Regions from separate parts of the Homo sapiens genome. Here regions 2, 3 and 4 are each linked to region 1. Evidence: fine-mapped expression QTL. A gene starts in region 1. Each other region holds a variant in brackets. All regions are shown on one strand. Distances are between the middles of the regions. Region 1 holds the start of ITGA2 (integrin subunit alpha 2). Region 2 overlaps ITGA2 (integrin subunit alpha 2). Region 3 overlaps ITGA2 (integrin subunit alpha 2). Region 4 overlaps ITGA2 (integrin subunit alpha 2).

Evidence for each region. PIP is the estimated chance that this variant, and not a neighbour inherited with it, causes the effect.
Region 2: its variant is the best candidate, but not a certain one, in a credible set for the expression of ITGA2 in Th1/17 cells (Schmiedel 2018, PIP 0.83).
Region 3: its variant is the best candidate, but not a certain one, in a credible set for the expression of ITGA2 in blood mononuclear cells (TOPMed, PIP 0.70).
Region 4: its variant is the best candidate, but not a certain one, in a credible set for the expression of ITGA2 in platelets (CEDAR, PIP 0.78).

Annotation. Positions count from the first base shown.
Region 1 is chr5:52,987,682-52,990,368 of GRCh38, forward strand. ITGA2 (integrin subunit alpha 2) reads left to right here and starts at 1,671. Exons shown (of 30, transcript NM_002203.4): 1 at 1,671-1,851. The coding sequence starts at 1,788. ITGA2-AS1 (ITGA2 antisense RNA 1) reads right to left here and starts at 2,605. Exons shown (of 4, transcript NR_186583.1): 1 at 2,409-2,605; 2 at 523-595. RefSeq lists an enhancer at 1-1,010 and a silencer at 1,475-1,624.
Region 2 is chr5:53,032,098-53,034,784 of GRCh38, forward strand. All of the region lies in intron 2 of ITGA2 (integrin subunit alpha 2), which reads left to right. The region is part of intron 1 of LOC124900974 (a long non-coding RNA gene); the gene reads right to left. Among named protein-coding and RNA genes, the nearest start is that of ITGA2-AS1, 43 kb to the left of the region's middle. The variant A/T (reference allele first, on the strand shown) is at 1,514.
Region 3 is chr5:53,015,414-53,018,100 of GRCh38, forward strand. All of the region lies in intron 1 of ITGA2 (integrin subunit alpha 2), which reads left to right. Among named protein-coding and RNA genes, the nearest start is that of ITGA2-AS1, 26 kb to the left of the region's middle. The variant A/G (reference allele first, on the strand shown) is at 1,179.
Region 4 is chr5:53,023,110-53,025,796 of GRCh38, forward strand. All of the region lies in intron 1 of ITGA2 (integrin subunit alpha 2), which reads left to right. It overlaps LOC124900974 (a long non-coding RNA gene), which reads right to left. Exons shown (of 2, transcript XR_007058767.1): 2 at 438-2,687. Among named protein-coding and RNA genes, the nearest start is that of ITGA2-AS1, 34 kb to the left of the region's middle. The variant A/G (reference allele first, on the strand shown) is at 1,090.

The DNA of each region.
Region 1 (2,687 bases):
GGATGCATGTTATTTCCCCCCACCCCCAGAGATAAAACACAAATTCCTGTCTCACATTAAAGGAAGTGTCCTGCCTCCCAAACACAGGTCTGTTCCAAACACTTACTCACATTTCAGTGAGTCAGAAGGAAACAGACAGATATTCATCTCCCTGAAACCTGGCTGACTTCCTTCAAAAAGTCTGTAAGGAGCGTCAAAATCGTGTCACCGGTTAGTGAGCAGCCACCTAAGAGCTCTCAGGTGATAGCCGGAGTTTTAGTAAGCAGGTGAGTACCCCAGACAATTCAGAAAAAAATGCCTTCAGGTGTTTGTCAAGGTGAGTAAGTGCAGCCAGTAAGTGACTGATAAGAAAACAGGAAAGAGCCTGGGACTATATAATTTGGGTTCAAAGGGTATTAGTCATAAGCCATCAGCAGCAACATCTGATGCATACCAATTTAATACTTTAACAATGTGACACATCAGCCCTATCTATAGTAAAGAGAAGAGCTTGATTTTTATGAATTATTAAGTCCTTCCCACCTTGAGCCACTTTGCTTCCTAGAGGCAGTATCTCAGGCATCCCATTCAGCTCATAGTAGCATTCCATGAAGATCTGGAATGATGACAATAATGATGATTATTAGACTCATAACTCCTTAAGCTTGATTTATGAAAACAGTTCGTTCCTTCACAAAAGTAGTCACTGGAAGAATTCTGGTTTCAGCAATGTGCTGGAAATTTGTGGCCAAACTTTTGGATAAAACATAAGATTCAGACAAGAAAAATTAATATCCTATTTCTTAGGTTTTTAACTAAAAATCTCGGATATAGAATGTTCTCTTTCCAGATGTGAGACTGAAATAATGGAAGAAAATGGTCACAGTCTATGTCATGGTGTAATGTAGACAGGGAGAGTCACAAGTGCATGTATGGGCTCTCAGCCTTTTCTCTGGCCTTGAAGTTAATCTCCTAAACTCAGTCATTAAATCAGCTCTTAATTATCTCGGAGGAGAGGAAGTAATGATGATTTCTCTCTCTCTGTCTCTCTGTCACACACACACACACACACACAGCTCTTGCAGCAGGTATTGCTTAAATATCACCTTGGATAATCATAACTTGTGAGCAGATCTTCTTTCCTGATGAGTTAGTTTCTAACCTGGTCATTCTGCGCTTATTTTTGTCCCTTTCTCCACCCACTTAGGAAAAACAGAGAAAGGGACGCACCGCGCAGCCCCTAGGCACTGTGGTTTAGGGCTAGTGCCCTCGGCACCCGCTGCCAGGAGCCGGGCGCTGCCAAGGGCTGCGGAGGGGCCACGTTCTCCCGGGGACTGGGGCATCTCCTGCGTGCTGGCGACAGGCTGCGGGGGCGGAGTGGTGCCAGGGCGGGCGCTCGCCCGTCGGATATGCCCACCCGTCCCGTCCAGGGCAGGAAAGCCTGCCAGGGCGCCATCCCCATCCCCACCGCCTCCAGGCTGCCGGGGCTGGGCCGCTGTACGGGAGCCAAGGTGCGGTGCCCCGCGTGTGGACGAGCCGAGGTGCAGCCCGCGGGGCCGCAGGGCCGGGGTGGGGCGGGGCGCGGCCGGAGCAGATCCGGTGTTTGCGGAATCAGGAGGGGCGGGCTGGGGCGGGCCCTCGGCGCTGCAGGAGCTGCCCAGAAACTTTTCCCTGCTCTCACCGGGCGGGGGAGAGAAGCCCTCTGGACAGCTTCTAGAGTGTGCAGGTTCTCGTATCCCTCGGCCAAGGGTATCCTCTGCAAACCTCTGCAAACCCAGCGCAACTACGGTCCCCCGGTCAGACCCAGGATGGGGCCAGAACGGACAGGGGCCGCGCCGCTGCCGCTGCTGCTGGTGTTAGCGCTCAGTCAAGGTAAGCGGGGATTTCGCTCTGCATCGGCTGCAGGAGGGACCCGCGCGGCTTCCTGGGGCTCGCTGGAGGGATTGGGCGGAACTAGGGAGCGAGCTCCGTGTGTTCCCTCGGATTCCACGTGGACTCGGGCTCCCAGCCACCAGGACCTGCTTGGAAAGAGATACTTCTTCGTTCCCTTCCTGCTATCCCAGGCCTTGCGTCCCCATTAGGCGCGTCTCGCCCTGTCTGTTAAGCACCCTCCAAAGTCATCTCAGTGAGTGCTTTGTTTTAGGTACACACACGCACACACACACACACACACACAGACAGACACGCACGCACTCAAGCATGGACAGTGTGGGGATCCGCGGGTGTCCTGGAGACCGCGAGTCCTGCAGCCCAACTTCCCCTGGCTCAGACAGGTGCCGCGCCTGCCAGAGACCAGGGAAATCCGGAATCCATTGCTGATGGCGGCCTGCAGCTCCCCAGCGCGGTGCTTGCTGGCTTTGCAGAAGCCTGCGAGCCCCAAAATGCTTATTTTTCAACCCAAGGATGTGAATAATGCCTCTATTTCTTACTTGAGGACGAAGCGCTGTGTTTCTTCCCGGGGGGACTTGGAATAAACCAAGCGCCACTTAAATACTTGGCAGAGGGGAATTCTTCCTTCCCTTCTGCCTTCCTCTTATTGTTGTAACATTGTCTATTCGACGAATGTAAACTTAGGCTAGGAAAAGTTCTTTTCACTTCTGGATCCTAGATGCCGCAATGAGAGAATAAGCCGGAGCAGCCGCTCTAACTGTAGTGCTGTGGCAGTGGGGCCCGCCCACCTCCTGAGTTCTTTTACACTAAGAGGAGGA
Region 2 (2,687 bases), 44 kb after region 1:
AAGGACTAGTGCATTCTTTTTCCTTAAAGAGAGAGGAGAAATAGAAAGAACAAGTGTCATAGCAAAAAATAAAAATAAAAAAAATCCACCTATATATGAGCTTATAGTTTTAACTTTTTAATTGAGAAAAACTTTAATAAAGCTCTACATGTGTTATGAATATAGCATTGTCATCCACAGATGTGCCTATAGGAGAACTTTAAATAAAAAAAAAAGTTTAATTCTATAACAGACATCAAAGATTATGTCACGTGATACTTTGATAATAACACCACCTGGTATTTATTGAGTACTCTTTCCTTGCCAAACATGTAATACCCATAATTACTCTAGGAGCTTTGCAAAATTATTACCCCCTTTACAAATGAGAGGAGTGTGACTCAGAAATGTTAAGTAATTAACCTAAGATTACAGAGCTGATAATTAATAAAGATAGGGGAAGCTAATGCAAAATGAGACAAAATGTTCCAAACGTACATATTTTTGTAAGTATCCAAGAAGGAGAGTGACAGGATGTAGTTGGCATTTATAAATAATATTTAAATTTTATTTTAACATAAACTTTATGAAGTAAGAGAAACTTTCAGAATCTTGAATGAAAAATTCTGTTAGAGAATTTCCAATGTTAGCATCATTGGCTTTACCATCAGCTGTTTCCTGGGCAAAGATGATAGTTACCATCCATCTTTTCATCCTATCATAGACAGGAATTTCTTGTATGAATATACTCAGGAGCCGGAGCACAAGGGTTTTACCCTCAGCTTCCCCACCACTCCCTGGGTGACTTTGGGAAAGTCACACAACTTCTCTGGAGCAGAAAGTATGCCATCCTTATCAAACTGGAATGTTATGAGCACCTTGTGTGAGAATAAAAGTAAAGCACTTCAGGGCTGGGCTCGGTGGCTCATGCCTGTAATTCCAGCACTTTGGGAGGCCAAGGCGGGCGGATCACTTGAGGTCAGGAGTTCGAGACCAGTCTGGCTAACATGGTGAAACCCCATCTCTACCAAAACCATAAAAAATTAGCAGGGCGTGGTGGCAGGCACCTGTAATCCCAGCTCCTTGGGAGGCTGAGGCAGGAGAATCACTTGAACCTGGGAGGCAGATGTTGCAGTGAGCTGAGATCATACCACTGCAGTCTAGCCTTGGCAACAGAGGGAGATTCCATCTCAAAAAAAAAACTGGGTCCTCCCTACCTCTTCCTATCCCCTCAACCAATTCTCATCTGTCATGGATGAGCTTCCATGCATATTGGATTAGCTTCATGAAGTCCATTTCTTCTTCTTGGCCAAGAATGCTATTCTATTCCAATCCTCTTTCCAAAATAATCATGTCTTTGTCTTTTATGATATAGCCTTTTAAATATTAGCCAATTATCATCCTTTATATCTCTTTCAAAGATAAAAGTCTCTTACCATTAGGTTGTCCTGGCAGTGCCATTTAACATGCCAACTTCATTTATTCACAGAGTTTGCTTATATCTTATTTAATTAAATTAATTAATTAATTAATT[A/T]ATTTGAGACAGAGTCTCAGTCTGTCACCAAGGCTGGAATGCAGTGGCTCAATTTTGGCTCACTGCAACCTCTGCCTCCTGGGTTCAAGTGATTCTCATGCCTCAGCCTCCTGAATAGCTGGAATTATAGGCATGTGCCACCATACTAGGCTAATTTTTTTTTTTTTTTTTGAGACGGAGTCTCACTCTTTTGCCCAGGATGGAGTGCAGTAGGGCAATCTCGGCTCACTGCAAGCTCCGCCTCCTGGGTTCATGCCATTCTCCTCCCTCAGCCTCCCAAGTAGCTGAAACTACAAGCGCCCACCACCATGCCTGGCTAATTTTTTATATTTTTAGTAGACACGAGGTTTCACCGTGTTGGCCAGGCTGATCTCGAACTCCTGGCCTCAAGTGATCCCATCTCAGCCTCCCAAAGTGCTGGGATTACAGGCGTGAGCCACCGAGCCTGGCCCTCCTTTTATTTTAAATTCATAACATAAATATTCCTTTTCTTCTTCCATTCAATTTTATTTTTTACTCATAACTTAGTCCAGTGTTTGATTCTATAAAGACATTAGAAATCCAACTGTAATATATTCTTACACTTTTATTTTAACTTTAAATACTTACTGTTAAAAATTTTATAAATACTTATTATGCTATTGCTGTACAATTAAGCCATCCTCAGCACTATTAATACAGGTATCCAAAGTGGCATGTCTCATCTCAACAATGACAACCCCCCAAGAGGCGGAGGTTGCAGTGAGCCAAGATCACGTCACTGCACTCCAGCCGGGGCAACAGTGAGACTCCAACTCAAAAAAAAAAAAAATCTATAGTAGGAAGGACACTTTAAATATCTCCTGATTTGCTTCTTCGTTCCTTCACTCTGGATACAAGTTTGTGTGTGCACCTACAAACACATGAATACATACACACCCATTGTTTGTGACTTGCACGTGGGAGAGATATGTTGCTCCAGAATGTCTGCTGTGCTTTAATGATCTATAAAAATCCTCCATGCCTCACCAACAAGTCTTATAATTTTAAGCTTTCCTCTGTGGTAATGTGTGAATATCTGTTTCTGGAATAAAGTTCATTTACAAAGGTGACTGGGACTTACACACACACCTTCCTAGTATCTAGTTGTCTAAGACATTTACATCCATCTAACTCCATCTAAAGAAGGATCTGG
Region 3 (2,687 bases), 28 kb after region 1:
TTCTCAGTATTGATTTCTATTTTTATTGTGCTGTGGTCCAAGACTGTGGTTGGTATGATTTTTTTTTTTAATTTGCTGAGAATTGTTTTATGGCTGATTGTGTGGTCAGTGTTAGAGTATGTACCTTGTGCAGATGAGAAGAATGTGTATTCTATTGTTTTGGTGTAGAAAGTTCTTAGATGTCTATTAGGTCCATTTGATCAAGTGTCAATCAGGTCCTAAATATCTTTGTTAGTTTTCTGCCTCAATGATCTGTCTAATACTGTCAGTGGGGTGTTGAAGTTGCCCATTATTATTGTGTGGTTATCTAAGTCTTTGTAGGTCTCTAAGGACTTGTTTTATGAATCTGGGTGCCCCTATTTTGGGTGCATACGTATTTAGGGTAGTTAGGTCTTCTGTTGAATTGAACTCTTTACATGATATAATGCCCTTCTTTGTCCTTTCTGATTGTTGTTGGTTTAAAGTCAATTTTGTCTGAAATTAGAATAGCAGCCTCTGCTTTTTTCACTTCTCTGTTTGCTTGATAGATTTTTCTCCAACTCTTTGCCTTTGAGCCTATGGGTGTCATCACATGTGAGAAGGTTCTCTTGAAGACAGCATACACTCGGGTCTTGCTTCTTTCTCCAACTTGCCACTCTGTGCCTTTTAATTAGGGCATTCAGGCCATTTATACTCAAGGTTAACATTGATTTGTGCGGATTTGATCCTATCATCAAGTTAGCTGATTGTTATACAGACTTGATTGTGTAGTTGCTTTATAGTGTCAATGGTCTATGTACTTAAGTGTGTTTTTGTGGTAGCTGCTAACAGTCTTTCCTTTCCATATCTAGCACCCCCTTAAGGACCTCCTGTAAGGGAGAGGTCTGGTGGTAACTAATTCCCTTAGCATTTGCTTATCTGAAAAGATCTTATTTCTCCTTCACTTATGAAGCTTAATTTGGCTGGAAATGAAATTCTTGGTTGGAATTGCTTTTGCTTAAGAATTCTGAATATAGGCCTCAAATCTCTTCTGGCTTGTAGTATTTCTGCTTATAAGGTTCGTTGTTAGCCTGATGGGGTTCCCTTTATAGGTGACCTAGCCCTTCTTTCTGGCTGCCTTTAACATTTGTTCTCTATTTTCGACTTTGGAGAATCCGATGACTATGTGTTTTGGGGATGATCATCTTGTCTGGTATCCT[A/G]CAGGGGTTCTCTGCATTTCCTGAATTTAAATGTTGGCGTCTGCAATGAGGTTGGGGAAATTTTCACGGATGATATCCTCAAATATGTTTTCCAAGTTGCTTTCTTTCTTTCCCTTTCTTTCAGGGATACCAATGAATCATAAATTTGGTCTCTTTACATAATCCCATATTTCTTGGAGGTTTTGTTCATTCTTTTTTATTCTTTTTTCTTTATTTTTGACTGAGTTAATTTGGAGAACTGGTCTTTGAGCTCTGACATTTTTTCATCAGCTTGGTCTATTCTGCTGTTAATACTTGTGATTGTATTATGAAATTCTTGAAGTGAGTATTTCAGCTGTATCAGATGAATATTTCTTTCTTGAAATAGTCATTTTGTCTTTCAGCTCCTGTATTATTTTGTTGTATTCCTGAGATTCCTTGGATTGGGTTTTGACTTTTTCTCCTGAACCTTGATGATCTTCATTTCTATTCATATTGTGAATTCTAGTTCTGTCATTTCAGCCACTTCAGCCTGGGTAAGAACCATTGCTGGGGAACTAGTGCTGTTGTTTGGAAGTAAGGAGACATTCTGGCTTTATGAGTTGTCAGAGTTCATGGGCTGTTTCTTTGTCATCCGTGTGGGCTGATATTCCTTCAGTCTTTGAAATTGCTACTTTTTGGATGGGTTGTTTTTTGCTTTTATCTTCTTTGATGCACTTGGAGGATGTGATTGTGGTGTTTAGTGAACTGGCATTGTCTCTGTAAGATTATAGGGAGCAAAGGCTCAGCCCTGCACTCCTAGGCTTCATACTCTAACTCTGAGGAACTGGCATTGGGCCCCCCCGCTTTGTTCTCTGGTCTTTCAAGGTTAGGCATCTGCTGCACTGGAGGGGCCAAAGTGTTCATGCTCTATATTGTCCACAACACTCCGATGGGGGAATGCCAGCCAAAGCTCTTTGTTGGGGTGGTGGCAGCAGGATCCATCGTCACTTTTATGTGACAGCAGCTGTGGCAGCATGGCCGTGTGCCCATGTGTCAGCTGGGGTGGGGCTCCAGAAGGAGCAGGGTGGCAGCAACCTGCTGGCGGTGCATGGTAGCAGTACAGCAGGGGCAGGGCACCAGTGGGGATGAGGTTGCCAGTATTCCTGTGTGCATTCATGCCAGCATAGCAGGCTGCCCACACATCAGCTGGGGGTATGGTAGGATGAGCATGCACTGGCAGGGGAGGAGAGACAAGGTCTTCTGGCATGTGTGGGCCAGCAAAGCAGTGTTGGGGGGATGTGGAGGGGTGTGAGGCATGGGTAAGCGCATGCTGGCAAAATGCTGGGGAGAGGCTGCGGTTGGGGAGGCTGTGGCTGGGGGAGGCTGCAGGTAAACCATTATGCATCGGTAGGGGCTGTTCTGCTGGAGCCCTCTGATGGCCAGGCATGGTCTGTCAGTGCAGGAGCTCTGATGAGGTGCCCTAGGAAGCACTCTGGTTGGGCATCTGAAGCTGCTCTGCAAGAGGCCATGGTCAGGCTGGAGCTCCAG
Region 4 (2,687 bases), 35 kb after region 1:
CATTCACATGAGGACAAAGAAGGAAGATTTATACTCTGGGTGATAATAGGCTCCTGGCAAAGCCCAAGTCAGTTGAAGACTCACTGCATCTAATAGAGAACTGGAAATGTATAGATTAATGAAGCAACCTATGACTCTCTGTGCCAGACTTTTCACCATTGCCGTACTCTTCTCTTTCACACCCTATGCCTACGTTTAACATGATGTTCCCGGTGCCTGGGATGAACTTTGCCTTCCTCTTTATGTAGTGAATTCCAACTTGTCCTCCAAGATCCAGATTAATTGCCATCTCCTCTGTGAAACCTTTGAACTTAGATTTACCCTCTTCTCAATACTGAGCTCAAGGTTCTTTTTACCACTCTTTATTTTAACACTTATACATTTTGATGCCATTTTTTTTAGTAAAATTACCATAATGGAAATGCAAAGAGAACAGGGAGATTTTAGTTTTATTTATTTGCAGTATCCTCAGGACCTTAAAAAACGCCTGGTACAAAGGAGCTGTATAAACATATGTTGAATGATCCATTTTTTAAGTATGTATAGACACATGGGCATGGTTTGGAGGAAGGAAACAAGATGAACCAAATATGGTTCTTATTATCCATATGATTCAGTTGAACTATGAGGACAGACATCAGAAGATATAGGCACTGGGATTGCAAAGAAGAAATACATGTTGAATTAGACAGAATACTTCCATTAATTTTTTATGAGCTATTTAGATATCATATGCCAAGTGTGAAATGATGACAGAGATCTGAATTGTAAATACATATTAAGAGAAAAAGTATAGAGAATTGAGATTGTCCAGATTTATCAAAAGAGGCAGGATATAAAGGGAAAGATTTAAGTAGCTGAAAAGAGATTTAGTATCAATGGAATGAAGGGATGGTGATAAAGAAGGTCATGCTTTGTGAGGAAAAATGAGCAGATCATTTATGAATAGAAATTCTGGACAATAAAGTTGAGAGATGAGCCAAACCTAGACTCAGAGTGGGTGACATTGCGCAAGAAAGACATTTAGCCTTCATGAGTTTCAGTTTCCTTATTTGTAATTTGTTAATAATAGCTTGGTTTTGCTGTTCC[A/G]CAGGATTGTTGTGGCACTCAAATGAGTCAGGATGATTCTGACATAGGCAGACATAAGCATTAAGAAACAGTAAGATGCGAGTTGGAATAAACATTATAATTTAAATAGAGGAAAAATACTGGAAGGAAATACATCTGAATTAACTGAACTTACAGTAGAAAGAAAAGATTATGAATGATTTTTCCCTTGAGTTTTCTCTATATTCCAAATCATTATTGAAGAACATATAGTAATTAAAATGCATTTTATTAAAAAAAAATCCTAGGTGCTGAGAAAGTAAGAGTGAATAAAAGAAACAAGGTTTGACTTCTCAAGGAGCTTACATTTTAGTAGGCACAGACAAAAGAATATGGCTATATAAGATAATTTTGGATAATTGCTCTAGTAGTGATACAGTGATGAAGAAGGGTGCTGCTGCTACACAGAGGGCCAAGGGAGAGCAGAGACCTATTTGAGCAAAGTCCTACATGCCGTATTAGGTGAGGATGTTATAGGCAGTGGAACAGGCAGCTGCAAAGCGCATAAGCAGAATGAGCTGCATGTGTTCAAAAAACAGAAGGAAAGTGAGTGTGGCTGGAACACAGGGAGGGAGGACGAGAGTGGTCGGAAGTGAAGTCAGAAAGATACACCAGGGCTCAATCATGAAGGACCTTTGAATTTACAGTGAGGACATTGGATTTTATTCTCAGTTCAATGGCAAGACATAAGTTAATAATATATATCTATGCATATATAGTAACACATATATGCCTATATATGTGAATTGCTGTATAATTGAACTGCTAAATGATAAAATGAACTCCATCATAATTTCCTGCCATTAAATGATCTGCCCAGGTCTAATTAATGGGGGAAAATGAGGTTGTTTTATGTACAGTCACGTGTCCTTTCCAGAATTAGGTATTTTAAAGGTGAAAGCAGTTTGGCATCATCTCTCCACGCTAATATGTTAGATGATTGATAACATATTCAAATAGCATTTATTGAGCTCTCCACAATGGGGTGAAGATAAATGTTGGTTGAAAACACCAGGTATTTTGCATGCCAATTCTGGATCTCTGCTTAATTTGCTGTTATTTTCTTTTGCATTTTTTTATTATTCAAAAATAAAAAGGAGCAATGGAGCATATGAAAAATAGATGTTAAGGAGAAAATTTGCAGATGTTAAGCTTTGCAGATTTTGCTATAGAGTATTTCAGAATGAGTATTTGTGTTTCTCTTCATGGCAGCACATTATTTGTAAGAAATAAAAAGCTGAATTCCTTGTGTGGACAAATCCCTGATACAGTGATTTTGGCACTTACAGAGGGACGTTAACTACTTAAAGTCCCCGTTGCTTCATCATTGACTTCATTATCATTTTGGAGCACTCTACAGAATCTGCTCCCTGAAATGCAGAGGCGCAATGGAAGAGCAAGCCTTTTTCTTCCGGCCTTTCAGTGCCTAAAACAATAGACATATGAAATACCATGCACTTGCAATGCTGCCTAGAAAGTAGGACATTTCTTTGTGAAAGCACATGTTAATGGAACTTTGATGTCAATTTTAAAGAGTCCATTCTGTCTTCAGTGTCTGCGAAGGTAAATATTGATCTTAA